Homo sapiens: one gene and its partner. The protein of the gene in region 2 interacts with the protein of the main gene of each other region in a pairwise test. Each region holds a gene or a part of one and is shown on either strand. Other genes may lie near its edges. The genes, in order: CACNA1A and MATN2.

Region 1 (14,882 bases), on a different chromosome or scaffold from region 2:
AAGAAACAAGAAACTGTAGAATATATACTATATGATTATTCCATTTATATAAAAGCCCAAAAGAAGCAAAGTAAAATTGTATTGGTTAGGAACGCATAATAAGGTAGTCAAACTTTTTTTAAAAAAGCAAGATATGAATACCATAAAGTCAGGTAGCGATTATTGCTGGAATAAGGGGCTGTGTAAGCGTGTTGGCAAAGGGGGTTCTGCAGAGGTGGTGATGTTCCATTTCTAGCCCTAGACTTGATTTCATGAGTGTTCATTTCAGACCAATTTCTTAACTCCGTACCTTTATGTTTTATGCATTTTTCTTTGTGCTTATTGAATTTCACCACACAAAAAGCAGAATGGGAAGTAATCAAAGTGGTTCTGGAGAGACGTGAGTATCAAGCAAACTATACCACCCAGAACCCCTATCCAGCCAACTAGGACCTGGTTAATTATTTCCTCCTGGGAGTTCAGACTTGTCACCTCTGGGGTCTCCAAGGTAGAATAAACCTTTAATTCCAACTTGCAGGAGTCCTTGTGATTTGAAACGTTCACAGAAGTAACCCCAAACCACTCTCTCCACTTTCAAAAATGGTCTTTTGCTAAACAGAGCAAATTTGTTTAGAGACTGACGAATCGCACCTCTAGACACAAATCCCCTTCTCTTTTCTGTCTTTTAAGTTTTTTTCCTGCCTCCATCCTGCCTTCTCCTTGCAAGATGCTGGGGAGCGTCCGGCTGTCTGCAACCGAAATGGAACGGGGTGGAAAACAGGCTTTCCTCCCAGGGGAGGAGGAAGCACCCCAATTCCCCCCTCCCTGCCTCCCAACCATGCGACGCTCCCCTCTCTCCCCCACAAACTCCGCTGAGCCCGGTACCCCCGCGCCTCCACGAGCCTCCACGATTGGTCGCGGGCCCTCATGTGTCGACACTCTGGGTGGGTCCTTCTACTGTTAAACTCATCAATTGCTCCCCTTTTCCGTTTGCTGGCCAGTGGTTCAGACCTTTGCGCCCATTTTTTTTTCCTCTTTACCTTCTTCTACCCGCAACCCTCCACACCAGTCTTATTTTAGCAAAACCTAGAGAAGGAGGAGGTGGAGGGATTTGGAGGGTGGAGAGGCATTGCCGCATCCAGGGGCAGCTATTGAGTGGCTAAGCGGAGGGCGCATACCTCTCTCTCTCTCTCTTTTCCCCCTGTTGGGAATTTTCAGGATTTCACTGCTGCAATTTAACCCCAAGATGAGGCACCATTGAGCGAAACGCTGTGCGCACATACACACTCACACTTCCTCCGGGAGCAGAAGAGGCAGCCGTTGGTGATTCAGGAAGAAAAAAAATTTTTTTTTTTTTTTTTAAACCTGGACCCTGCGGTGTGAAGACTCCTTAGGAACCCTCTGGAGCGTCTTACTCCCCTTCCCTCCTCTTTCCCTTCCCTTTCATCTTCTTTGTTTTTATTTTATTTTATTTTTGGAGCTACAGATCTTTCAGCATTTTTAAGGTCTAGGAACTCCAGCAAAACAGAAGGGCACTTAATTTTTTTTTTTTTTTTTTTTGCCCTCCCCACCCAGACCTGGGTTTCGTCTTTCTTTATTTTTAAATATATATATATTTTTTTATTTTTTATTTTTTATTTTTTTTTAATGGGCCGAGCGCACTCCTTTTGCAAGATGCCAGCCTGACCCGGACCTCGGAGGAATTTGAAGCTTCCACTGCGTCCCGGGGGGGGCGTCCTTTGCAAACCGTTCGCGTCTTAAAGGGGGTGTGCGTTGGGTGGATTTTTTTTTTTTAACTGTCTCTTTTTTTTTTTTTCCGGAGTGGGTGGACTGGGGATTGCCTGGATTCCTTCCTCGGTTATTTTTTGCCTCGCTTCTCTCTCCCCTCCCCCCTCCTCCCCGGGCCCCCGCGCCCCGCCCCCGCACCCTCCTCCCGCCCCTCCTTCTCCGGGGTCAGCCAGGAAGATGTCCCGAGCTGCTATCCCCGGCTCGGCCCGGGCAGCCGCCTTCTGAGCCCCCGACCCGAGGCGCCGAGCCGCCGCCGCCCGATGGGCTGGGCCGTGGAGCGTCTCCGCAGTCGTAGCTCCAGCCGCCGCGCTCCCAGCCCCGGCAGCCTCAGCATCAGCGGCGGCGGCGGCGGCGGCGGCGTCTTCCGCATCGTTCGCCGCAGCGTAACCCGGAGCCCTTTGCTCTTTGCAGAATGGCCCGCTTCGGAGACGAGATGCCGGCCCGCTACGGGGGAGGAGGCTCCGGGGCAGCCGCCGGGGTGGTCGTGGGCAGCGGAGGCGGGCGAGGAGCCGGGGGCAGCCGGCAGGGCGGGCAGCCCGGGGCGCAAAGGATGTACAAGCAGTCAATGGCGCAGAGAGCGCGGACCATGGCACTCTACAACCCCATCCCCGTCCGACAGAACTGCCTCACGGTTAACCGGTCTCTCTTCCTCTTCAGCGAAGACAACGTGGTGAGAAAATACGCCAAAAAGATCACCGAATGGCCATATCCTTTTGCCCGAACCCCAGCAGCAGCTGCGCCTCCCCCTCCTCCCTCCGCCTCCCCTCTTCCAGGCTGGGAGAGAGACCCGGGGGTTGATGGGAGGTGGGGAGGAGGGGGGTCTTCCAGGGGCTGGGAGAGGGGGCACCGGGAGGAGTGTGAAAGAATCTCTCCACCCCGAGCTGGGTTGAGCTACCCTGGAGGCTTGGGAATGGGTTTGTGGGGGGCTGGGGGGTGGGCAGCGGAGAGTGGATCCTTCCCAAGGACCGACTCTAGAATGAGATCTGGGGCCTGGGGTCGTGCAGGAGCCTTGGTGGGGGCTTTCGAGCCAAGTCCGGAGGGTTTGGAGTTCTACGGAGTGAGCTTGGAGCGGGCTCGGGCCTGGGCGCTTCTGGCCAGGGCAGGGGAACTATGGGGGCCTTGGTTGGGTTTTCTTGGCCGTCGCTCACTGGAGTCCACGCAGGGGAAGCTGGACAGCCTCTCCACTACTGCTTTCCCCAAGGTGGGGGGCCGCCGCACTTTTAGGGCAGGGCGCTTGGGGGCTCCCAGGGCTAAGAGCAAGAGGGAGTCCATGTGGCCTTCACACTGAGAAGCCAGCACTGGCCGAAGTGAGTACCCCAGGGTGGGCCGCTGTTCCTATCTGGAGAGGATAGTGATGGGCTGGGGGGCGCTTATGTTTCCCTCATGTGTGCAGGTCCCATTGCCTTTAACCGCTGATTGGGGAACCTCATCATCTTTGGGGGTGTCGAGAAAGAGATCCCACTTGCTTTATCTGGGCCCCTGGCCTGGGAAGACCTGATCTGGACACTTTCAGTAAGAAAGACAGGGCAACAGCAAATGAGGTGGTGGGTCCATTTTAGAGCACCATGTCCAGCTTTTCCTACCCCGAGTAGCCGAGAGGGAACACCAGGAGAATCAGCACCCATGTGGACATCTTAGGTAGGTAAATGCCTTTTAAATTTTTTTTTTTTTAATCAAAGATCCAGAGGAAAAAGGTGAAGCCCACATTTTCTTCTGTGGAGATGCTATCAAAATGCAGATCTTCTGTGTTTCTTTAAATCCCTGCCTGCTTGAAATAAACCTTGAGGAGGGCTTAACATCTATCGAGATGTAGGCAGGCAAGGGTGGGTAATTAGTCGGGCTTTCTAGCAGTTATCTAAGCATGACCCAGATTCCAGGAGGGGGGACACACCCTGCTGCCCAGGCTGGCTGGCCACTGTGCCATGCCCAGATGTGCCGCTTCTCCGCACAGTTCCAACCAGCTGCCCTCTGTGTAAAAATGAACGGGCTGGATGGGTCCCTGGGGCTCAGCGATGAGTCCCCTATCCCTTTTGTATGTGGTTTTGCAGTTATAGACTAAACGGGGCTGGGCCCTGTGTGGTCTCCGGGGGTTGCTGTTTGAGGAGCATGGCGGGTGGTAGAGGGACTCACTTCAGGGGGGTTCAAAATCGAGCCTGGCGCTTGGATCCTGGGTGCTGGGATTGCAACAGAGGGCACTGAGGTTTTGGAGTGTGTGAGTGGTCTACTTTGAGGGTGGGGAAAATTAAGAAGTTCAGCAGAGGTGCTTTTGAGGGGAGCATACCTCTAACTACGATGCCATCTCCGTTGGTGCCCAAAGCAGGTGCCAGGTCTTTGCTTCCTAAGTTTCAGACTCTTAAAGAGGCTGGTTCTTAAGGTTAGCAATTCCTCACCATCCCAGGCCCATTGAAGTGCTCAGGGGTGGCTTGATTACTCTGCCTATCAACAGAGTGAGGAGTGGGAGTGCCTTGCAGGAGGACAGGGTATTCATGGGTGCACACCCAGTTAGCTCCAGGAGTGAGAGGGCTTTGCTCGGCTGACAGGTTTCCTCATTGAAAATGGCTTTAGATCGCCTTCTGGAGCCTGGATTTGGAGACTTCTAAGAGGAAAGGAAGGAGGTGGGGAGCCCTTCTGCTGTGTCCTTAGCTTACCTCTGTCCAGCCTGAATCCTGCAGATTGGAGGGCTGTTGGGGGAGAGGGGGATTGCAGTGGCCCCTCGGAAGGGGGAATCGTGGGAGAGGGAGGCAGGTGAATTGCGAGTGTTGCTTGCCACTTCATCTATTCTCTGGCCAGCTCGCCCGGGGCTTTCTTGCTCTTATGATGAGTTTGTGCATTATGCTCTCTGCAGACTGTTTTTGTTCTCTTTGACCCGAGGTAACAAACACATTATACAGCCCTACTCTGGAAGGGAAAACTCCCCACCTCACAATCTGTCATCGAGCTGGGTCATCCAGGACTGAGCTTTCTCTGTCCTGGATGGAGCGGAGGGCGGTGGCGGGGTGGGTGGGAGGGTTGGAGATGAGAGGGGATGGACAGAGACCTGGGGAGGGAGGTAGTGAATAAAAGAATTCAGGCCAGTGTAAAGAGAAAGACACGTGGAATGTCAGAGTCACGATACCAGGGCAGAACATTCTACTTTTTAATCTAAATATTTCTGCCATTAAAAAAAAATGTTTCAGCATATCCTGAGAGTGAAAAAAAAAGTGTGTAGGTACTTAAATAAAGTCTAATATATGTACAGGCAAGTACATATATTCAGATGCATAGATTTTTACAAAATGAACACACCCACGTATCCAGCACCCAGGTCCCGATCAGTGCCCTGGAAGTCCCCCTCCCCATACCGCCTCCTAGTTGCTCCCCCAACAAGGGTACCGCTCACCTGACTTCTAAGGTTCATTTTGCCTCTTTTAAACATGTAAATGGAGTCACACAGTACGTTCTTTTGCCACTGGCTTCTTTTGCTCACATCTGTGTATGTGACTCTACTACAATCTATCCATTCTACTGTTGATGGGCATTTGTGTCATTTCTGTTTGTGCCACTGGGAACATTCTTGTGTCTTCTATTATTTTTTTCCCACAGTTCTCTTAGATAGGAGTGGAATCGCCCCTGCTACTTTTTGATGCATGTGTTGTGGGATGTGTATTTGGAAATGGTGTTGACTAAGGGTTGCAGGTCGATATGGAAAGCAGGTTCCTCCCTGTCTTGTTTAAGAGAAGTGAGTGAATGATCCATGAACTTGTCGGTATGCTCACAGGGCCTAAGAGTGCTACTTCCAAATGTAAATTCTGGCATGGTACACTGGTGAAGGATGCAGTCTTGCTTTCTCCACACTCGGGGCAATTTGTCACTATGATTTCTTCCTCTTTCATCCCTCAGTGGGTCAAACTTGAAGCCATCAATGACAATTAAGAATCCTCATTTATTTCATTTTTTCCCCTCTTCCTAAGTGAGGAAACCCAAATGGAAGTCTTTGATGTTCAAATTTACATTGCCGTGTTTTTCTCATGCCAGGCAGCAAGCCGTCTTGACCACACACCTTGGTTTCATGTTTTCATTGACTGGAATTGTGATTCAAATAGGGCCATGAGGGTCTCTGATGATTGCCGAAGAGCTCAGATCTGTCAGCTCAAAAAGGAGCATCTGTCAGCCTTCCTAGAGTTCCCTCCCCACTTAATGCCACTCACTCCTTCTACCAAGTGCCAAGGTGAATGTCATCTTTCCAGCCCTCCCTGTGCCACCAGGTCTCCCACTGAACATGATGTAGAAACTCAGGCCATCGGAGGAACACTGGAAGCAGGTCAGTGTATTATCACGCACAGTTGCCTGAATTACACGTAGAATTCCAGCTTTTCATCCGGTTTGCAGAAATCTTAACAAGACACCTAAAGTCACATTGACATCAGGTGACATCACTTTGACATCTGTGGACATTGGCTGATTGGCACTCCTCTCATTTTTTTTTTTTTTTTTTTTTTTAAGAAAAGCTCTCTAAAGAGAAACTTTCTGCATGAGAAGCGCTGGGAGACATGGGAGCAGGTTATCAGACTCTTGGCCTGTCCTGAGAGATAGAATGTTCTAGAAGGTACTGCCGTAGAGGGCAGGATGGTGTCACTTACGTGATCCTTGTACTAGACCGGCTTGGCTGGTATTTCCAGAGGAGCAAAATTCTGCGAAGTAAAATTTAGCACGGCTTTTCCAATGGGAGTATTTTCAAAAAGGGTGCAATTTCTTATCCACAATTCCCCAATCCAAAAAGCTCCAAAAACCAAAAGACGAGCTCATATAGAGGTAAAACCTAACCTGAACTGACTTCAGTTTGAAGTCTTAATTTACAGTTTTCATTCATTCTACTTGGTGTGCATTTGAGTATGTTTTGCAGCAGAAATGTTAGATGTGCTTGATGATGAGGTGCTGCTTCAGCTCCTGACTGTTAGGTCTGCATTGTAGTCCTGTCAAACTTTCAGGTGTATGGAAGTTGTCTTGTTAACAGGATGGTTCTGGTCCAGCAGGATTTGGGTGGGGTCTGGGATTCTGCTTTTCTAGCTAGCTTCTAGGGATTCCCCATGTGGTAAGTTCATGGGCTAGGGTTGGAGTATCCAGGTTAGATCATAGAGACATCTTGTTATCATTTTTCTTTTCCTTAAAAATCAGGTTTATAGGGGCCGGGTCTGGTGGTTCACGCCTATAATCCCAGCACTTTGGGAGGCTGAGGCCGGTGGATCATGAGGTCAGGAGTTCGAGACCAGCCTGGCCAACATGGTGAAACCCCGTCTCTACTAAAAATACAAAAATTAGCCAGGCGTGGTATTGTGCGTCTATAATCCCAGCTACTCGGGAGGCTGGCAGGAGAATCATTTGAACCTGGGAGGCAGAGGTTGCAGTGAGCCGAGATTGCACCACTGTACTTTTTTTTGAGACTCTGTCTCAAAAAAAAAATAGATTTATTGATGTATAATTTATTTGTAGCAAAATTCACCCTTTTGACATACTGGTCTGCAAGCTTTGACAAATGGATGTAGTTGTGGCCACCACCCAAATCAAGATATGGGACAGTTTCATCAACCCTAAAATACCCCCACAGTGCCCCTCTTGAGTCAGCACCCCACTTCTCCAGCCCCTTCAACCACTGATCTGTTCTCCATCCCTACAGCTTTGCCTTTTGCCGAAGGTCATATAAATGTAATTTCACAGTATATAGCCTTTTGAATGTGGATTCTTTTACTCAGACTTTGAGATTCATTCATGCTGTTGCCTGTGACAGTAGCGCCTTCCTTTTTGGTGTTGAGCAGGATTCCATGATATGGATGGACCAGAGTTTGCTTCCCAGCCGAAGGACATTGGGATGCTTCCAGTTTCAATGATTATGAATAGAGCTGCTATAAACATTGGCTTATGGGTTTTAGTGGGAACATTTCATTTCATACATTTCATTTCTCTTGGGTAAATTAACCCAGGAGTGAGATTGCTGAGTTGTGTGGTAGGTGTATGTTTAATTTTATAAGAGGCTCTCAAACTGTTTTCCTAAGTGGTTGTACCATTTTACATTCCCATCTTTGCAATGCGTCTAAAAGCCCTGAGTTCTGAATTCCAAAGCACGTCTGGCCTCGATGGCTTAGGATTAAGGATGTGGATCTATGGAAAGGAGTGGAAGTAATAGTGTTAAATCCCGGTCAGAGAAATAAGAAAGATTAAGGATGTCATTCAAAGCTATGTGCCTGCACTAGAGAGAGAGAAAGAAGGGGTTCTCTTGGGTGGGGTTCCACCCCTCCCTGGTAGTTCTACCATTCCCCAGGAAAAAGTCAAGCTCTGAGGCTGTGAGACCCATGATCTTTACCCTGTTCTTCACCACTGCAACCCCAGTGTGTGGGACAAAGCAGGCGTCCTATAAACGTTTGCTGAGCAAATGAGAAAAGGTACCTGTCTTCACCCATTAACTAAATTGTATAACATCTATCTGATCTACCCTTGTGCCAACGTTTTAGGATTTTGATGGGTTTTAGTTGCAGGGGGTTGAGAGACTGTCCATGAGATTATCAGACCAATGAAAGTTTCTGAAATGTTAGTGCTTGAGTAGATTGGATGCAGCGGCCCCTTGAGAATGAAGTCTTTCTTCAGGGACTTGGAGTGGGAGGCATCTGTTGGGTGCGTAGGGCTTATGCTTCCCCCTCCCTGTTTCCCCCCCAGTAGCAAGCACACATATACACTTTCTCAGCAATAAAAAGCACCGCCGGGAAGGTGGACTCCATCCAGAAATGATCAGAGCCTAAGAGCCGTGCAGTAACGCATTTCCGAGAATGCCAGCTCAGCTCCTGAGAAAAGGGCCGGATGGGATGGTGCCTGCTCTGAAAGAGGGCAGAGAGGAGAGGGAAAACACTCCGGACTCTGGGTCAGACTGGCCCAGGTTCACATTATTCACCAGCCATGTTATCTTGGGCACCAGAGCCTATTTCTTGACATGCATGATGAGGATATTCCTTCTAGTAGCATCTCCCTTGGAGGGCTCTCAGGAGATTAAATGGGGTCGTGCGTGAAAAATGGCCAGCACAGTCTCCAGCACAGAGAAAAACCCCAAAACGCCAGAGCCGTAATACTATGGAGTCATTTAGGTTCCAGTGTTCTTTTTTTGGAAACCGGCCAGAAAAGAGGCTTTCTGGGTGGGAATGGGAGCGAAGTGCCCCCCCCCACCACCCCCTGCGACTGGTCAGTGTGGATTGATTAACCTGATCGTGGCGCTCTTTAAAGCCACCTTTGGACATTTTGCATTCTCCGTTCTCTCTGGAAGCTTTCAGGGGAAAAAAAATTCGTGGCCACTTGACCCATTTTTCTATTCCCTTGAGTCTAAGGTAAAAATTAATTCTCTTTCCTCCTTTGGTCCCTCCCTCTCTCTGTGGGTGACAAGGTGAGGGAGTTTTAAAGTATATAATTAGCTTCCCTCTTCCCCTTTTGCACTCCCTGTCTCTTCCTTTGGGGCCGGTCGAGAGTGCAGCCCAGGATGGCCACCCCAGGTGTCCACTGCAAACTCCACAGAAAAACTTTGCTCAACTTTTGGTTTAGAATTTAGGTACCCCCCTCCCCTTCCAAACTTTGGTCTTCTTTCTCCTCACTCCCTAAAAAAATAGGAAAAACAAGGAACATTCCTGGCGAGGGAACCATGAGTGGGCACAGCAACTTAGGTTTCAAAAACCACTGGGCCTCAGTTCTTATCTGAGTAGGGTGACCCTTCAGCCAGGGTTGCCTGGGACTATCCTGGGTTTAGCATCTCTGGAAACTCACAGTCCTGGGCAAACTGGGACGCTGGTCACCCTAATGGTGAGTTCTTAACACCTGAGAGAGAAGAATGGTGCAAGAGATGGTGCCGTTGACCAAGAAAGGGGGAGAGTCAGTTACTTATTCCCTCTGAAAAGCCAAGACTTTTTATTGGAATGAATGCAGCTTTTAGAAGCCGTCTTTAAGGCAGCTAATACAAGAGAGATTCCAGCTATGAAGGGAAATGCCTGAGTTAAGTCCGGATCAAGTTTTGACATCTCGCTTCGGTCAGACACGGCTTTATCTGCCGTTCAGACTGGGAGCAGCCGTGAGTCTTCCTTAAAGGTGCCTGTTGCTCAGGCGGCACCTGCAGTTAGAAATTAGCAGCCTCCCACCCCCAGCCCCCAAATAACAGGATTCAAGAGTCCCCTCTCTGAAGCCATGAGGGAAACCCAACTTAGTCACCCACTTGCCAGTAAATAATATTCATGCTGTTAAGTTCTGTTCTCATTTTAGGCCTATGTGTAAAAAATATATGTAATTTTAAACTGATTTTTAAAGTATTTTCATACGAACAGCATTTGCAGGAGGGCGAAGTCTGGATGTTACCTTTTTGTAAAAGTGGATGGATTTGTCTTCAATGAGACTCTGGGGCAGACTTAAAACTTGGCCCGCAGTGGTGTTACATGGATTCTGATCTTCCAGAGTCTGTCACGTTCTTTTATCTCCATGATCTTTATTATCTTCTTTATTGAGAATGATGGGCATGGTGTGTGTGGGTGGGAGGGCTATGCTGACCATCACTGCAGTGAAATGTGTTCGTGGCATGTTGTGGCGTCTGCATAGGAATGTGTCTGTTTGATTAACAGCACAAGCAGTGGAGGCTGTAAGGAGGAAAAGAGGAGGGAAGGTGATATTGGATGGAGGGGAGACATATAGAGCTTGGGAACAGTCCACCCTGGCTGCAAATCTCAGCTCCAGCTCACAGTTGTGGAGCCTCAGTCTTCTCCTCTGTAAAACGGGGACAGTAGTCCTATGTCCGAGGAATTGTAAGAAGGTTAAAAGATACTGTACCCAGAAAGCACATGGCATATATAATCATCCTGTGAAGTAGCCAACTCAATGAATTTTATTTTATTTATTTTGAGTCAGAGTCTCACTCTGTCACCCAGGCTGGAGTGCAGTGGCATGATCATGGCTCACTATAGCCTCGACCTCCTAGGCTCAAGCGATCCTCCTGCCTTAGCCTCCCGAGAAGCTGGGACTATAGGCATGCACCACCGTACCCAGCTTTAACAACATAAATTTATATATATATATATATATATATATATATATATATATATATATATATATATATATATATTTTTTTTTTTTTTTTTTTTTTTTTTTTTTTTTTGAGATGGAGTTTCATTCTTGTTGCCCAGGCTGGAGTGCAATGGCGCGATCTCGGCTCACTGCAACCTCCGCCTCCCGGGTTCAAGCAGGACGATGGGCATTTGGGATGTTTCTAGTTTGGGGTGGGGGATTGTTTGTTTGTTTGCTGTTATGAACAATGCTGCTGTAAGGAATCAATAATTTTGAATGAATGAATTCGAGGTGTTAATTTTAGTCTGTGTACTTGGAAATCTAGCTTCACCTAGAATCAGCTGAGATTCATCAGCATTTATGGCAGGAGCTAAGACATTTCACAGCTTACTCATCATTTTCTCTAAGAGGCTGGGTCAACCGGTTAGCTCTTGGTCCTGCTTGTATTCTGAGAGTCAGAACCTGTGGTTTAGACACTGGCAATTGATATGGTTGTAGAGAAGCAGCATGGTTGAGTTGAGAGCATGGATTCTGGAGCTAGGTGGCTGGGGTTCAAATCCCAGCTCTACTAGTCACTGGCTGCGTGATCTTGGGCAAGTCACTTAAGTGTTCTGTGCTTCAGTTTCCCAGTCTGTCCCAGTGGTGATTCTAATAGCTCCATGGGGATCCTAATAGCTCCTATCTGGGAGGATTAAATGAGTTAATACATCTGATGTTTAGAGTGGTGCCTGACACTTAGGAAGCACTATATGTGTTTATACATGGAAGAGTGGATAGATGGATGGACTTATGTGGGTGGCCATATTTGGGCTTCTCTGATCCACTGCTGAGAATAGTGTGTGGCACACAGTAGGTGCTGCATAAGTGTTAATATTCTGCTCTTTCTTGCCAAGTCTCTCAACTCCCTTGATCTCTGTTATTTTTGGCGTCTGTGTTGTTAACCCATTCTTCTGAATGATCAGCTGAATCACTGTTGCTCCAATATATAAGCCAAGGAGAACACAATCACAAGGTCTCATTGATTGTCCATACTAGAATTCCATGATTCCTAGGCCCAAGTAGGATTTTCCCCACGTCTCAGCAATCCTTCTTCCATGTTTCTAATCTTTTTCTCTCATTTGTTATGCCCCATTGCCAGACTCTCCAATCTCCCCACAGCTTCCCCTTCCTCTAACTATACTGTCTCTAGTCTTACCTTCTCCCTAAGGGCACCGTCTTTGAAGACATCAAATACTTCAGAGCACCAAATATAGGTTAGCTTCTCTGAGGGCCTTACAAGGACATGGAGTGTTTGGGTCTTACACAAATTGGAATGGTCAGAAATGTTTAGAGACTTGAGTTGTCTTTGAAAGAGTTGTCAGAATGCAAATTTTTGACTTGTGGCCTGTTTCTGATCACAACGCAGTCTTTTAAGTTATGGATCATAGCTGGATGTTTGTGGTTTAGAGGGGATGGAGGCATCCTCTGCAGTTAGTGTTGGATGTCTGGGTGGATGGATGGATGGATGGATGGATGGATGGATGGATGGATGGATGGTTGAACAGATGCATGGATGAGTGGATGGATGGATGGATGGGATGAAGGAAGGAAGGAAGGATGGGTGATTGGAGGGTAGGTGGGTGGATAAGTAGATTGGTAGATGACTCGATGGGTGGGTGGACAAATGGATGGGTGAATGGATGACTGGATGGATGACTGGATGGATTGGTGTATGAGTGAATATATGGCTGGATGAATAAATAGGCAGATGACTAGACTGGATTGAGGGGTAAAAATATGGATGACTGGATGGGTGGATGAGTGGATGATAGATGGTTGAATGGGTGGGTGGATGGGTGGATGTTGGATATAAGGGTGTATGGTAGGGTAGCTGTCTATGTGTGGGTCTCCCTGATATTTGGTGTTCTGTTTGACTTGGGAATGACCAAGTCTCTCCGCTTACCACCTTATTTGTACCTTTTCCAGTATCAAGTGAATTTTGCACACTTTTGTAAAAATCAATAAGATTGTATGTTTAGGACTTTGGGAGGCCGAGGCAGGCAGATCACAAGGTCAGGAGATAGAGACCATCCTGGCTAACAGGGTGAAGCCCCATCTCTACTAAAAATACAAAAAATTAGCCAGGCGTGGTGGCGGGCACCTGTAGTCCCAGCTACCTGGGAGGCTGAGGCAGGAGAATGGCATGAACCCGGGAGGTGGAGCTTGCAGTGAGCCAAGATCATGCCACTGCACTCCAGCTTGGGCGACAGAACGAGACTCCATCTCAAAATAAATAAATAAATAAATATTATATGCTTAGGTTTTACCTATGTAATTAGAAAGCTCCTTGAGGGTAGGGGACAGTGATTTGCCTTCCTCACATCCCCCCAAAGTTCCTGCACTATATCATGCATAAGTATTTAATTGAGTAATGGTGAGGAAAGTAAACAGTGTTATTGAACAAAGATTATTAAAATTCTGGAAACACCTGGTTTTGTTTCAGCACTGGGACTGAAAGTGGAATTCCTTGGATTTTGCTCCATTGGTGGATAGGATAGCATGTGGTGGTGGACTGGTAGACTCTTTCTCTTCCAAGCAGATTGGGTAAATGCCCCAGATTCTTACCCACTAGTCAGAGATTACAGATTACTGATTGATATGGTTTTTCTCTGTGTCCCCACCCAAATCTCATCTCAAATTGTAATACCCACATGTCATGGGAGGGACCTGGTGAAGGTGACTGGATCATGGGGGTGATTTCCCCCATGCTGTTCTTGTGATAGTGAGTTCTCATGAGATCTGATGGTTTTAAACTTGTGTGGGCCTCTTTCCTCTCTCTCCTCTCCTGCTGCCATGTAAGACGTGCCTTGCTTTCCCTTTGCCTTCTGCCATGATTTGTAAGTTTCCTGAGGCGTCCCCAGCCATGCAGAACTGTGAGTCAATTGAACCTCTTTTCTTTATAAATTACTTTTATAGCAGTGTGAAAACGGACTAACACACTGATGTAGCAAGGTCCTTTAAGGCCCCATGTGATCTGGTCCCTGTTTTGTCTTTGATCTCATCTCTTTCATTGTCTACCTTCCTTTCATTGTCTATTCTGTCTCAGCCCTGCTGACCATTTTACTCACACCCATGTCATTTGCATTACATGACATTCCTTCTGTTCAGCATAAGCTATTTCCTCTGCCTGCATCACTGTTTCTCCAGGTCTCCCCATGGCTAACTCCTTCTCTTCATTTAGGTCTCAGCCCAAAAGTTACCTCCTCCAAGAGGCCTATCCTTTTCATTTACTGAACATCTCATGTACAAAAAAGAATATAAAATATATGTATACTCTCTCATCCACAAAAAAATCTCTGAAGACATTTTAATGTATTTCATCCCATACCTTTTTATGCATGTAAACTTTTAGGAACACATTTCCATGCCACTAGGTATCCTTGAAAAAATAAGGGCCACCATGTATAGTTGCACAGGTTGTGCACTGCACAAAGATAGCATGTCACATATCTTAAGTATCATGGAGCTTGTATGTCTACTATTTCAGTACCCCAGCTGATAAAAGCTTAAGTATCTTGTTCTAGCAAGATGAAGCTATTATGACAATTTTTGACAGAGAAAGGGGTGTTTTGTTTAAGTTCACAATCAGAGAAATGGGTGTCTTGTTTAATTTCACAACCAGAGAAAGGGGTGTCTTGTTTAAATTCATACAGTGGTGCTGTATGGGTTGGTGGCAACCCCAGAAAAGACTGTTGTTAATATCTGATAATGTTCCACTTTATACGTGTATTATATTCATGTAACAATCTCTGGCTGTTTGTTTTGCCATTATAAATAACAGTGCAGTAAACATCTTTGTGTGTGAATCTCTGTCCAAGGTTCTGATAGTTTTCTGAATGAAATTCCTGTCTATATATGGCACTCCAAGCCCATAATTGAAACTCTGCTGTTACCACTTTCTTTGAATCTGTAGAAGGAATTTTGAGAACAGGTGACTGGTATATTCAGGATGTTGATGACAAGGAACAGAGAAAGAACAGTTAAATGGTTTGGAATTTTTCCTGGGCTGCATGTAAAGC
Region 2 (15,280 bases):
AATAAAGCCAATAACATCCTTTTGGTCTCCATCTGAAAATGACTTCCTTCTAGAAGCCTATGGCCTACCAATCTGAGTGGCATTTTTTTTTTTTTTTTTTCTTTTTGAGATGGAGTCTCTCGCTCTGTCGCCCAGGTTGGAGTGCAGTGGCGCGATCTCAGCTCACTGCAACCTCCGCCTCCCCGGTTCAAGTGATCCTCCCACCTCAGCCTCCTGAGTAGCTGGGACCACAGGTGTGCACCACCATGCCCAGCTAATTTTTGAATTTTTAGTAGAGATGGGGTTTTGCCATGTTGGCCAGGCTGGTCTTGAACTCCTGGCCTCAAGTGATCCAACCCCCTTGGCCTCCCAAAGTGCTGGGATTACAGGCGTGAGCCGCTGCGCCTGGCCCTGGGTGGCATTCATTTTATGTTCTTCCATGGCATCCTCAGCATCCCCAATCAAGGTATATCTTCCGCTCTATGGTTACTGCTTTTCTTGTCGATAGTCCCCCAGTAGATTATAAACTCACAGAGAGTCTATGTGTTACTTATTGCTCTGTTCGTGTATGGCACATGTCTGGCAGATAGAAGGAACTCAAAACATATTTACTAGAATAAAATAAAATAAGCACATAAGGAGAATTAAAGCCAGCTGTAATCCCATCCCAGTGACTGCAACAAATTTTTAAAAGCAACTCAGTGGAGCTCAAGTTCCATAGAGACAATTCAGAAGAGCCTACTAGAAAAAAATTCCATTCCACCGGGCGTGGTGGCTCACGCCTATGATCCCAGCACTTTGGGAGGCCGAGGTGGGCAGATCATTTGAGGCCAGGAGTTCGAGACCAGCCTGGCCAACATGGCAAAACCCTGTCTCTACTAAAAATACAAAAATTAGCCAGTCGTGGTGGCACATGCTTGTGGTCCCAGCTACTTGGGTGGCTGAGGTGGGAGAATCACCTGAGCCTGAAAGGTTGACGCTGCAGTGAGTCATCATAATACCACTGCCCTCTAGCCTGGACAGCAGAGTGAGACCCTGTCTCAGAAAAAAAAAAAAAAAAAGAAAAGAAAAAAGAAAAGCAAAAAAAAAAAAAAAAGAAAAAGAAAAGAATTCATTCATTCCTATAGATGATGCAAGGAGACCGCGGGAAGGTCACTGCTCCAGCAACCCTGCCAAAGCCACAGCTGGAGTAGTGTGTACTGGGCTGGGGGGCTTTTAGGGGAGTGTCGACTTTTAGAAGAAAGTTGTAAAGGTGATAACAGCAACACAGTAATAAAAGGATTGCTTTCCGAAGAAAGATTAAAGTCCCGCTAAGATGAGAGGCTACCTAATAGTCTGCCTAAATTTGAAATCAAAAGGAAACCAGCATTCTTAGTTCTTACTATTCTTGTGATCAAGTCCCATTCACGTGAGCTTAATTCAGTAGGAATCTGAATACAAAATTAAATTGCTAGATGTGTCTCCTCTTAGGAGCTTTCTCTTTTCCCTTTCCTAGTAAATCGTTGTTAAAGCAATAAATGACCAAATCTAAGACCTTGGTGGAACCCTGAGACCTTGGATAAATGGGGGGGAATTCTCAACAGCTACTATGCAACTTAAAGATAGTGACCTGTTCACCTACTTCCTGGTCACTTCAGATTTAAATGAAATCCCTGTAAGACCATACATGATAAACCTTGTTTGTCTTTAATCCTTTATAAGAAGATCACAAAATTCCAATAGTAAAAGCAATGTAAATTCCCCTGTGGCAGGTACCATAGACTCAAGCACAGAAATTCCCACTGCAGGCAATTTCTGCAGTGGAAATGAATTTTTTTTTTCTTCAGATACTGTCTCACACTGTCACCCAGGGGAGAGTGGCACGATCACGGCTCACGGCAGCCTCAAACTCCTTGGCTCAAGTGATCCTCCCACCTCAGCCTCTCTGAGTAACTGGGATTACAGACATGCGCCACCATGCCTGGTTAATTTTTTTTTTAATGTTTTATAGAGACAGGAGTCTTGTTATACTGCCCAGGCTGGTCTCTAACTCCTGGCCTCAAGCAATCCTTCCACCTCAACCTTCCAAAGCACTGAGATTACAGGTATGAGTCACTGCACCCGGCCTTCAGACTTTGTTCTTTTTCTTTCAAGATTATTTTGGCTATTAGCATCAACCTGTCAGTTTCTGCAAAGAAGCCTCTGTGATTTCAGTAGGAATTATGTTGAATCTGTAGATCAATTTGGGGATACTGCCATTTTATTAAGTCTTCCAATCCATGAATATGGAATGTCTTTCCATTTGTTTAGATCTTCTGTAATTTCTTTCAATAATGTTTGCAGCTTTTAGAGTATAGAGTTTGCATTTCATTTGCTGAATTTCTTTTCTTTTTTTTCTTTATTTTGAGATGGAGTCTCACTCGGTCACCCAGGTTGGAGTGCAATGACACGATCTTGACTCATTGCAACCTCTGCCTTCCAGGCTCAAGTGATTCTCCTGCCTCAGCCTCCTGAGTAGCTGGGACTGCTGGCTTGTGCCGCCACGCCAGGCTAATTTTGTATTGTTAATAGAGACAGGGTTTTACCATGTTGGCCAGGCTGGTCTCGAACTCCTGACCTCAAGTGATTCACCCACCTCGGCCTCCTAAAGTACTGGGATTACAGGCGTGAGCCACCACACTCGGCCTATTTTTGTTATTCTTGAATCCCCATTTATTGAGCTCTGCCAGCGGGCTGGGGGATTTTATAGAATAGATGCACATAGACATTGCCCAAGTGTCTGGCAAACTGATTTAACACCAGGCATCCCATGCAGACATAGACTCATTAATATCCTTGAGAGAAGGTAGTTAGTTGAGTGTCACAAGGATGAGGCTATCGGCTCCTAATAGCCGACCACTTTGTGCCAATTTCTAGGTTTAGGAATGAAAGCAGCAGCAATCTGTGTTGCTGAGCGATGCTTCCATAAATAGCAGGTCCATCCTCCATTTCCAAAGTGAAACCTAGTCTGCAGGTAGACAGGCAGTGTTTCAGCCTTGTCAGTATCCAAGAAAACAAATCATATTTGTGCTCACTATTGCCTATGCATTAAGGCTCCCCACTTTATTATCTCATTCTTTACATTAATTTTTTTTTTTTTTTTTGTAGAGATGGGGTCTTGCTGTGTTGCCCAAGCCAGGCTCACACTCCTGGGCTCAAGGGATCCTCCTGTCTCAGCTTCTCAAGTAGCTGGGACTACAGCCAACTGCAACTGCCTATTATCTCTCTTTTAAAATCTGAGACGGGGTCTTGCTCTGTTGCTTAGGCTGGAGTCTGGAGTGCAGTGGTGCAATCACAGCTCATGGCAGCCTCGACCTCCCCAGCTCAAGTGATCCTCCCATCTCAGCCTCCCAAATTGCTGGGAGGCTAATTTTTAAATTTTTAAAAAATTAATCCAGCTAATTATTAAATTTTTTGCAGAGATGGGGTCTCACTGTGTTGCTCAGGCTGGTCTCAAACTCCTGCGCTCAAGTGATCCTCCTGCCTAGGTCTCCCAAAGGGCTGACATGACAGGCATGAGCCACTGTGCCAGGCCTTATCTCATCCTTGATAGGAAGCTGCATCAATCTGATTCCACAAAACTACAAGGCTCTAAAATCCTGGTTAGAGCCGGTGTAACCCAGTCCCTTCTACAGCATGGCATAGGGCAAGATCTATAAATAAGCAAAAGGCCCAGTCCCTGTCCTCAGGAGCTCATGGTCCAAGTCAAAATCACATAAAAACATTTGAGTCCCCTTTGAAATGAGTATTGTTTTCTTGAACAAATTTTCAACTTGCTGTAGTTTTTTTCCTGATCACTTTCATCCTGTCTTTCCAAGATGGGATATGTTTATTTAGAAATTACTTCACCTGGGACAGCTGCTTCTCTCTTTTGCTCAGGCCCGTAGCACTGCAGGATGGGCAAGTGTCGTGGACCTCATACTGCTAGGAGTCTCTGTAGTCACCAACAAGATCAGAAGTGGCATGATAAACAGTACAAGAAAGCCCATTTGGGCACAGCCCTGAAGGCCAACCCTTTTGGAGGTGCTTCTCATGCAAAAGGAATTGTGCTGGGAAAAGTAGGAGTTGAAGCCAAAAAGCCAAATTCTGCCATTAGGAAGTGTGTCAGGGTCCAGTGGATCAAGGATGGCAAGAAAATCACAGCCTTTGTATTCAGTGATGGTTGCTTGAACCTTATTGTGGAAAACCATAAAGCTCTGGTTGCTGGATTTGGTCAAAAAGGTCATGCTGTTGGTGATATTTCTGGAGTTCGCTTTCAGGTTGTCAAAGTAGCCTGTGTCTTTCTTTTGGCCCTATACAAAGGCAAGAAGGAAAGACCAAGATCATAAATTTTAATGGTGAAAACACTGTAGTAATAAATGTTCATATGCCAAAAAGAAAAAAAAGAAATTATGTCACCTGGGACAATGGTGCCATCAGTCAGCCTGTCCTCAAAGGAACCCTCTGGACATGGACCCAACTGTCCATGTAGATGGGGTATCCCAAAGGGAGCTCTGCCCTGCCTACAGGGTTCCCCTCCCTGGGCTGGAGTCCAAGCTCATCCACTACCTTGGAACATTCCCTTAACCCTGCATCTCCAGCTCCAACAAATGGGCAGCTGGCCGGATATGAAGATGTTTCCTCTCCTGGCCTTCTACTTGAGGGAGACAGGGAGGAGCTCTAATAGTTTACATAGGACTCAAACACTGTCTGTCACCTAGGGAAACAGTGCACGTGAGATGACATTGCAATTTTACATGTCTCCTCATGCATTCAGTAGAGCTTTATTTTAGGTTTATAGGTCCGTGAGGCAACCTGTTTCTTCTTCAGTTTCCTTATACTGTACTCTGGTCCCCTTTGGATTTGACAGTCTCATTTCAATCTGCCCTCTAGGCCAGATAGCTAGGTCTCAAGTAAGAAGGATTCTAATGCAAAACAAAAAGTTCTAATGTTTACAAGGAGCAAAGGGATGCTTATGTTTAAAGTCTATATTCGAGGCTGTTCACGAGTGTGAGGCCTGGGTCAAATGACTCTCCTGACCCAAATCCTTACTCCACAATAGACTACGTGGAGATCGAGAACTGAGAGTTGATCCCAAGTATAGCTACTCAGGTTGTGATTAGTTTAAACAGATACCAATTCCAGTTAACTTGTGAGCTCTTAGGAGTTCTCAGATAATACATACCTCATTTTTGTCTGCTTACATGAGTGCCCACATAAGAACTGAAAATCTGTTTTTTTTCTTTCTGGGACAGAGTCTCACTCTGTCACCCAGTCTGGAGTGCAGTGGTGCAACCTCGGCTCATTGCGACTTCTGCCTCCCATGTTTAAGTGATTCTCCAGCCTCAGGCTCCCGAGTAGCTGAGATTACAGGCGTATGCCACTACACCCAGATAATTTTTGTATTATTATTATTATTATTATTCTTAATTTTTATTTTTTGAGATGGACTCTAGTTTTGTTGCCCAGGCTGGAGTGCAGTGGCACAATCTCAGCTCACTGCAACCTCCGCCTCCCAGGTTCAAGCGATTCTCCTGAGTTGCTGGGATTATAGCCTCCTGAGTAGCTGGGATTATAGGCGCCCACTACCACACCCGGCTACCTTTTGTATTTTTAGTAGAGACGGGGTTTCACCATGTTGACCAGGCTGGTCTAGAACTCCTGACCTCAAGTGATCAGTTCGCCTCAGCCTCCCAAAGTGCTGGGATTACAGGTGTGAGCCATCGCCCAGTCCCAGAACTAAAAATCTTAAACCCACACTTCTGAATAAGGTTCTCTGTACATCTAGCACATGGCAGGACCTCTAGCAGAAAAGGCAATTTTGGCCTTTTCCTAATCTATAGTCTTAATTATCAACTTGCAATTCATCCTGAAGGTAACCCAGAAATCATTTCATTGTTTGTTCTGCCTTTATATTTCAGGACATTGAACTTGCTTTTCCTTCATTTTTTTCTGGCAGACCTGAAGATCATCCCACAAGGTAGAACAACTCATTTAACCTATTTGACTTGGCCCCAAGTGTAATTTGTACATAGATTAACTATTCTGAAGAATTCCAATAGAACTCCCTGGGGGGAAAACACCCATTTTAATTGGCATACACCAGAGTCACTGGAATCAGTTACTAAATTACAATTTCCTTACAATTTGGAAGGGTTTGGGGATTGTTATTGTTTTCCTGGTAAATTACTGGATCACACTGGTGTCTTGGAATAAGTCAACACATTTTAAATTTAAGTTTCCATAAACTGTAGCTCAACTTCCCAAGTTCCTAGGGGATTTTCACTGGCCCAGACTCAGGAAGAATTTTCTTCTATGGGATCCAAGACTTCAGAGACCAAACATTTCCTGAAGACTTTCCTCTGCTTTCTGACCTCCACCTACCTCCTCCCAAAGACATAACAAAAAAACTATTTGTGATCAGTGCAGGCAGCCAAGAGTGCCCAGTGGGCCTAAGGTACTGGGTAAAGGAACAGGAATCCACAATTCTTTCTTGGTATTAAGGTATCATTGACTTGCCTGATGGCTCGAGTATGTTAACCCCTTGCTTCATGGCTGGAATTTTAATTACCCCTCCTGGAGCTTTTCTGAAGAATTGATTTTGGCGTTTATTCATATTTCAGAAATCAACTCTATCATCAAATAGGAATGATGGTTAATTACAAAACAAAGTCCGCCCAAAGCACCAAATTATCAGACTGTGGCACATCCAGAGGTTTTGAAACTAGTTAGTGCTGCTGCCTCTGCTGGTAGCTTGTTAAAACCTGAACTGGGGCCGGGCGCAGTGGCTCACGCCTGTAATCCCAGCACTTTGGGAGGCCGAGGCGGGCGGATCACGAGGTCAGGAGATCGACACCATCCTGGCTAACACGGTGAAACCCCGTCTCTACTGAAAATACAAAAAAAATTAGCCGGCCGTGGTGGCGGGAGCCTGTAGTCCCAGCTACTCTGAGGCAGGAGAATGGCGTGAATCCGGGAGGCAGAGCTTGCAGTAAGCCAAGATTGCGCCACTGCACTCCAGCCTGGGCGACTCCGTCTCAAAAAACAAACAAACAAACAAAAACACAAAACCTGAACTGGGTGCGTTGGCTAGTGGTTTGGGAACAGAATTTTGGAGCTTTATAGGAGATGTCCTGGTCTGTTATACATCCACTCACCCCAGCCTCCAGGAACTGGGGAGCTGGTAGAGGGGGGTGCCGGCCACTTTGACTGTCGCTGGCCAATCCTGTCTTCTGCATCCCTCCAAGGCTCCATGGGGACATCCAAGGTGAGGTTCCTCCATTCTGCAAAGTTGCAAATGTCTCTGCTCATAATTTCAAAAGTCTTGTCTGAACTAGACTTTCCCTGCTCCCTCGGGGTAGGAATTTTGTCTCCTCTCCATCCTGGCATCTTTACCTCCTCCCCATCCCGGGGCCTGGTCCCCAGCCAGTGGACGCTCTGTTAATATGAACTGGCACTGGTGGGGTGCTCTGGGCACTGGCAAGACAGCTCTTGGCGCTTGTCATCAATTAGCCCAATTCTCACCACTTTTTTCTCCATCCCCGCGTCAGTGGGTGCGTCCCGCAGGTCATGACCCCAAGTTCTAGATGTAAGATTCCTGCCATGTCTCCTTTCCCCCAGAAGACCCCTCCCCGCACTCCCAACCCGACAGGCCCCTAAAGCTGCCTGTGTTCCGTGCCTGCGGCTCCGGACCCCTGGAGTCTGATGCCCGCCTGGGCTCAGGCACGGACGGAGTGGAGCCAGGTGGCAGCAGGCAGGGCGCGCCGCCAGAGTGCCCAGCTCCCGGGGCTGCCCACAGGGTGGGGCCGCCCTCGCCGCCGCTCCCTCTCCGCGCCTTCCCCATCCCCAAAGAGGACACCCCTCCTTCCGCCCGGCCCGCTCCCCACCCCCGCCGCGGCACCGCCTCCCCAGCCGCCCGCCCTTGCCCAGCGCCTCCCAGGCAGCCAGCGAGCGAAGGGAGCGCTCTGGGATGGGACTTGGAGCAAGCGGCGGCGGCGGAGACAGAGGCAGAGGCAGAAGCTGGGGCTCCGTCCTCGCCTCCCACGAGCGATCCCCGAGGAGAGCCGCGGCCCTCGGCGAGGCGAAGAGGCCGACGAGGAAGACCCGGGTGGCTGCGCCCCTGCCTCGCTTCCCAGGCGCCGGCGGCTGCAGGTGAGCGCGGCGCGCTTTCCCCCGGCTCTGCGCGGCCGGGCGGCCTCGAAGTGCAGGCGGACCGACCCACCGACAGAATACCGAGCCTGGGCTGCCCGACGCGCAGGCGCCCTCCCCAGGCCCGCACTGCAGCCCCCAGCGCCCCGGGGCCCCGGCGCCTTCGACCCCTCCGAGGACAGGGGGAGAGGGAGGGCGGCGCTGCCCGACCCCTCGGCCGGGAGAGCTGGGCGCGCTCCCTGCGCAGGACAAGCCGCGCTGCAGCCGCCCCGGAGTGCCCCGTGGGGGCGCTGTGGCACGCAGCGGGGACGCCCAGACCCCGGCCACCGCGACCCAGGGAAAGGGAGACCTGTTGAGCGGGTATGCAGGGTGATTCCTATTCCACGGACAGCCGATGGCTCCCCCTTCCCTCTTCGGAACCTGGTATTTTCATGCCCGTGTCATCTGGATTTTGTTCTTGGGTCTCTATGGCAGCTAAACCTCCAGCTTCCCTATATTGTGGAAGAGGGAGAGAAAGGGGAAGGCATTTTGTGGTAGTTGCTAGAAACCCCAGAACAATTTGGAGCCGTTTGGGGAGAGGACAGAGAAATGGGGACTGTCCCTGGTAGGGTCTCCAGGACTGGGGGCACAGGAAAGTGCTCTCCTCAGGGACACTCGCGCCCACCCTGAACAAACCCAATTGACCAAGTTTCAATTTGTCATAAATCAGGAAGCCACAATGCATCTGCACCAAGCACACTTAAAATCGGCCTTTAAGGAATGGGGCAGTCAAGAGACTTCAGGGACCCGTGGTCGAGAGCAGAGACTGGGGTCAGCCTGCTTGGGTTTCAACCCCAGCTGTGAAGTTTACAGGGTTGATAACTTGAAGGTACCCAAGTATGCCTCAGTTTCCTCATCTGTCTAATGAGGATGGTAATACCCACAGAACTGTGAGGATTAAATGAGATATGGCGGCCGGGCACGGTGGCTCAGGGCTGTCATCCCAGCACTTTGGGAAGCCGGGGCGGGCGGATCACCTGAGGTCGGGAGTTCGAGACCAGCCTGACCAACATGGAGAAACCCCGTCTCTACTAAAAATACAAAATTAGCCGGACTTGGTGGCGCATGCCTGTAATCCCAGCTACTCGGGAGGTTGAGGCAGGAGAATCGGTTGAACCCAGGAGGCAGAGATTGCAGTGAGCGGAGATGGTGCCATTGCACTCCAGCCTGGGCAACAAGAGCTAAACTCCGTCTCAAAAGAAAAAAAAAAAGATATGGCAAGTAAAGTCCTTAGAACATTTCCAGGAGCATTCTAAGATTAGGTGAGTTCCATGGCTTGTCTTTGCAGAAATAGCAAGGAGCTGCTATGAGCAGTGAATGTACCTCTTCCCCAGTTCAGAAAGAGAGGCTCTCCATGGGTACGTGAGGGTGGCAGATAAGCCACGTGTATGCAACTGGTAGTTCCATGCAGGAGTCCACACGGGCGCAGTTCTCCCTGCTTGCTCCCAAAGGGCCAACCTCATAAAACCATGTCAAAATACCAACATGGGTTTATGACCTGGAATGTTTCCTCTCAGTCCCTGAAACTTGGCACTTAGAATCCTCTGTGGAGAATGAGATACTTATGGCTCTTCACCTTGCATTTTCCTATCTGTCCACACTTTTTACTTTTATTTCTGCCAATAGAATTCAATCTCAGGCCCCCGAGTTACCAGGACACTGTCTTCTATAAATCGGGGCTCTGGGGTTTCTTGTTCCCAGGCAACCCAGGGCCACCAAGGCCTAAGCTTGCTTGTTGGAGGTGTCAGAGCAGAGTCCAAATCTGAAACACCCTCGAGCAGCTGTCATGCCCTAAGCTCTTATCAGCGAGTGCCATATGTCCTTGTTTAGCAAAAGGTAGTTAAAAGTGTGGCCTGAGATTTAAAGAAAAGGAGAGATGTTTGCTCTTTGAAATAAGAGAGCCATTGGAGGTTCTGGAAAAATAATTCTACAGTTTATTTAGAAACAGTTCTGACTGGCACCTAAGAGAGGGCAAGGAGTGAGGTGGGGAGACTAAAAGGGGGAGAGACCGGCTTAGGCCTCAGGAAAAGCAGGCCGAAGAGGGTGTGACAGGTCTAACGCTGGCCTGAGCAAGGTGTTGGGTATGAGGCTGGGCAAGCAGTAGGAGAGGTGAGTGGTTTAAGACCAGTCAAGTTGGCAGAGAGCCTCTAGTGCTGCCCCTGGCACTCACTGCCCTCTGATCTGTAGCACCTGCAGGAGCGTCCCTTCCAGGGATTCCCCGTCTTCTAGGGAAGCTATGGAGGACTCCCCTGTTTAAAGCATATGGCAAGATAACTCAGGAGGGCCAGGGAAAGAGGGAGGCTGAGCATATGCCAAGGGGAGAATGGGGAATGTCATTGCTGTTGCTAGTGAATGGTGCCAGGGAGGTCCTTCCAAGGGGCCACTTGCCACTTGGAGCTTCAGCCCATGAGGCCATCCTTGAACCCTGCCATGTGGCTCGGCAGACAGCCAATACTGCCTGAAGGGGGCTCAGATGGAATGGCAGGGCTGGGCTGTTGCCAGTAATTGGTGTTAATGACTATGACAGTGGCTTTGACATGGATGAGATGGAGTTGGGGTACAACCCAAAGCACACTGCTCTTGGCACCCGAAAGACCTGGGTTGCAGTTCTAGCCCCTCATACCTGCAAAGATTTTGGAAAGTTACTTAGACTCTCTGTGCCTGACATCTGTTTCTTCATCTGTAAATGAAGACTGGATTTTTTGGGAGAATTAAATTAGTTAACAGGTGTTCAGTGCCTAGCTCAGAATAAATGCTCAATATTTGTTAGCTATACTTACTATTATTGTCTGAGCCTTGGTTTATATCATCTGTCAAATGGGCGTGATACTATGTCATAGGGTTGTTGTAAGGGTTAAATGAAATAATTAATGTGAATTTATCCAACAGTGTGTGAAGGGTGTAAAGTACTCAAAGTGAGTCAATTGAAATGGAAAATTTCACAAAATACCTGCATGTAAAAATCAGCGGCTGAGCAGGTGGATCAGCTAACATTTTTGGAAAGTTATTCTAAAAGTACTGTCAGAGGAACCTTTATCTACTTATGGAAAGTGGGGCTCACTGCCCATGGGGATACCCTGTAGTTATTTTATGTTGTTGTATTAGTTGCCTATTGCTGCTATAACAAATTTCACAAACATAGTGGCTTAAAACAACCCTAAGATGTTATCTTGCAGTTCTGAAGTTCAGAACTCTTAAATGGGTTTTGTAGAGCTAAAATCAAGGTGTCAGCAGGGCTCTGTGGTTCCTTTTGTAGGCTCTTGGGAAAATGTCTTTCATTTTCTGACTTCTAAAACCTGACTGCATTTCTTGGCTCTTGGTTCCTTCTTCCATCCTCAAAGCCAGTAACAGCATCTTCCAACCCTTCTCCCCATCCTGACTCTCGTGTCTCCCTCTTACAAAACCATACCTAGAAAATCTGGGCTAATCACTGCATCTCATAATTCCTAAGTTAATCACATCTCCAAAGTCCCCCCGTTTTTTTTTTTCAAGACAGAGTCTCGTTCTATCGCCCACGCTAGAGTGCAGTGGCGTGATCTTGGCTCACTGCAGCCTCCGCCTCCCAGGTTCAAGTGTTCTCCTGCTTCAGCCTCCCAAATAGATGGGATTACAGCCATGAGCTACCACACCTGGCTAATTTTTTATATTTTTAGTAGAGATGGGGTTTCACCGTGTTGGCCACGCTGGTTTCGAACTCCTAACCTTAGGTGATCTGCCCACTTTGTCCTCCCAAAGTCCTGGGATCACATGCGTGAGCCAACCGCACCCGGCCCAAAGTCCCTTTTGCCATGTAAGGCAACACAGTCTGGGGATTAGGCCATAGACATCTTTGACATATTATTCTATCTGCCAGAAATATTAGAGTATTAGATTGGGCATGATGGTAAGAAAAACTATTTAGAAAAAAGAAAGAAATATTAGAGTATTAGAGAAAATGATCTAAATCAAAGAGTTTTAGCTCACTTCTGTTTAGGGCTTCTCCCTGTACCCTCCCAGTTAGGTGAGTTTGTTTTCACATCTCTTTTTTTCTTTTTTTTTTTTTTCCCAGACAGTTTCTCTGTGTTGCCCAGGCTAGAGTGCAGTGGCACAATCTCTGCTCACTGCAACCTCTGCCTCCCAGGTTCAGGTGATCCTCCTACCTCAGCCTCCCAAGTTGCAACACCATGCCCTGCTAATTTTTGTATGTTTAGTAGAGACAGGGTTTCACCATGTTGGCCAGGCTGGTCTCAAACTCTTGACCTCATGATCCACCTGACTCAGCCTCCCAAAGTGCTGAGTTTACAGGTGTGAGCCACCATGCTTGGCTGTTTTCACATGTCTTAAAGACCAAAAGCTCAAGACCAGAGGGGTCAAGGCTATGGATCAAATGCTTCTTGAAACTCAGTTCAGAAATGGCTCCTTCCTGTCCTTTTTGGGCTTTCTCCCTCCCCTTGAGTAACCCTCAAATTTGTTTCTTTTTTAGATTTTTGTAAAAACTTTTTTTTTACAGAGACAGGGTCTCGCCATGTTGTCCAGGCTGGTCTCGAACTCCTGAGTTCAAGTGATCCTCTTGCCTCAGCCTCTCAAAGTACTGAGATTATAGGCGTGAGGCACCACGCCTGGCCAGTAACCCTCAACTTTGGCCCTTAGAACAGTCACTGTTGCCCCATCAACAGCATTTGTTGACTTTTCTAGCTGCTTCTCCTCTTCCATTTCTAGTGAAATAGAAAAAATGCCCTCATGTCCAGAGCAAGATCTCTGTGAAGCAAATCACTCTAGTGACGTTTGACCTCCCTGAGATTCCCAGACGGTGTCTGTACTAGTTTCCTATTGCTGCTGTAACAAGTTAGCACAAACTTAGTGACTTAAAACACAGATTTATTATCTTACAGTTCTGGAGGCCACAATTCTGAAATGGTTCTCATGGGGCTAAAAATCCAGGTGTCAGCAGGGAGAATTTGTTCCCCTGCCTTTTCCAACTTCCAGAGGCTGCACGCATTGCTCGGTTTGCTTCCATCTTCAAAGCCAGCAATGTCAGGCTGCATCCTTCTCTCACTGCCACACCTCAGATCTCTCTTCTGCCTTCCTCTTCTTCTTCTTCTTCTTTTTTTTTTTTTGTTTGAGACAAGGTTTTGCTCTGTCGCCCGGGCTATCATGCAGTGGTGCGATCACGGCTCACTGAAACCTCAGTCTCCCGGGTTTAAGTGACCCTCTTATTTAGGCTCCCAAGTAGCTGGGACTACAAGGATTGTGCCACCATGTCTGGCTAAATTTTTTTTTAATTTTAATTTTTTGTAGAGACAGGGTCTCTCTATCTTGCCCGGCTGATCTTCGACTCCTGGGCTCAAGCAATCCTCCTGCCTTGGTTTCCCAAAGTGCTGGGATTACAGGCATGAGCCACCATGCCCTGACCTCTTCTACTTTTTTTTTTTTGAGACAGAGTCTTGCTCTGTTGCCCAGGCTGGAGTGCAGTGGTGTGATCTCAGCTTACTGCAACCTCTGGCTCCTGGGTTCAAGCGATTCTCCTGCCTCAGCCTCCTGAGCAGCTGGGATTACAGGCGCGAGCCACCATGCCTGGCTAATTTTTCTATTTTTAGTAGAGATGGGGTTTCACCATGTTAGTCAGGCTGGTCTCGAACTTTTGACCTTGTGATCTGTCCGCCTCGACCTCCCAAAATGCTGGGATTACAGGCACAAGCCACCGCCCCTGGCCCCTCTTCTACTTTTGAGGACGCTCGTGATTACATTGGCCCACCTAGATAATCCAGGATCATCTCCCCTTTTTTAAGGTCATCTGATTAGCAACCTTAATTCCCTTTGCCATCTAACATCACATATTCCCAGCTTCTGGGAATTATGATGTAGACATCTTTGGAGGGCAATTATTCTGCCTGCCACAGGACCTGAGAAGGAGTTCCAAATAGTGTCCGCCTGGGCTGCCTCATTCTTAATAACCACCCCCTTCCAGAATGTGCACAATGGCCCACTCAAGAGAGAACACCTGTTAAACTCTTCAAAATTTCTCCCGCAGCTCTCAGGTCTCTCAGTCCCTCTGTTGGTGGAAGGATCTGAGGGCAATAGAGCCTGGAACTGCACACTTTATTTGTTAAGTTAATTTTTTTCTTTTAAATCAGAGGAACATATAAAAAGGTGCACAAATCATGAGGGAAATCTCAATGGAGTTTTACAAGTGAGCACTCTCCACTGTCATGTAACTGCCCCCAAGATCTGCACCCATAGCCCCCTTTGGACCCCAAATAAATTATCGTCTTCCCCTAAGGCAACTACTATTTTACCTTCTATCACCATAGGTTAATTTTGTCTGCTTTATCTTACTTTATTTTTTATTTTTATTTTGCTCTCTGGATCTGTGTAGAGTATTTGCCTGTTTTTTTTTTTTTTTTTTTTTTTGAGGTGGAGTCTCACTCTGTCGCCCAGGCTGGAGTGCAGTGGCTCGATCTCGGCTCACTGCAAGCTCCACCTCCCAGGTTCACACCATTCTCCTGCCTCAGCCTCCTGAGTAGCTGGGACTACAGGTGCCCGCCACCCTGACCAGATAATTTTTTGTATTTTTAGTAGAGATGGGGTTTCACCGTGTTAGCCAGGATGGTCTCGATCTCCTGACCTCATGATCCACCCGCCTCAGCCTCCCAAAGTGCTGGGATTACAGGCGTGAGCCACTGCGCCTGGCCGAGTATTTGCCTCCTTTTTAAGCAAACTTCTCTTTTTTTCTTTTGAGACATGGTCTGACTGTCGCCCAGGCTGGAGTGCAGTGGCATGATCCTAGCTCACTGCAACTTCCTGGCTCTAGCCAACCTCCCACCTCAGCCTCCCGAGTAGCTGAGACTACAGGCATGTGCCACCACGCTTGGCTAATTATTGTATTTTTTTTTTTTTTTTTTTTGAGACAGAGTTTCGCTCTTGTCACCCAGGCTGGAGTGCAATGGCGCAATCTCGGCTCACTGCAACCTCCGCCTCCCAGGTTCAAGTAATTCTCCTGCCTCAGCCTCCCGAGTAGCTGGGATTACAGGCATGCACCACCATGCCCGGCTAATTTTGTATTTTTAGTTGAGTTGGGATTTCTCCATGTTGGTCAGGCTGGTCTTGAACTCCCGACCTCAGGTGATCTGCCTGCCTT

The links.
Region 1: the proteins of MATN2 (region 2) and CACNA1A interact in a two-hybrid assay, tested with the Homo sapiens proteins (one study listed by BioGRID and IntAct).

Annotation. Positions count from the first base shown.
Region 1 is NC_000019.10:13,493,522-13,508,403, reverse strand, and holds the start of CACNA1A (voltage-dependent P/Q-type calcium channel subunit alpha-1A), read left to right. Parts: upstream 1-1,924; 5' UTR 1,925-2,179; coding exon 2,180-2,472; intron 2,473-14,882.
Region 2 is NC_000008.11:97,861,161-97,876,440, forward strand, and holds the start of MATN2 (matrilin-2 isoform a precursor), read left to right. Parts: upstream 1-7,903; 5' UTR 7,904-8,127; intron 8,128-15,280.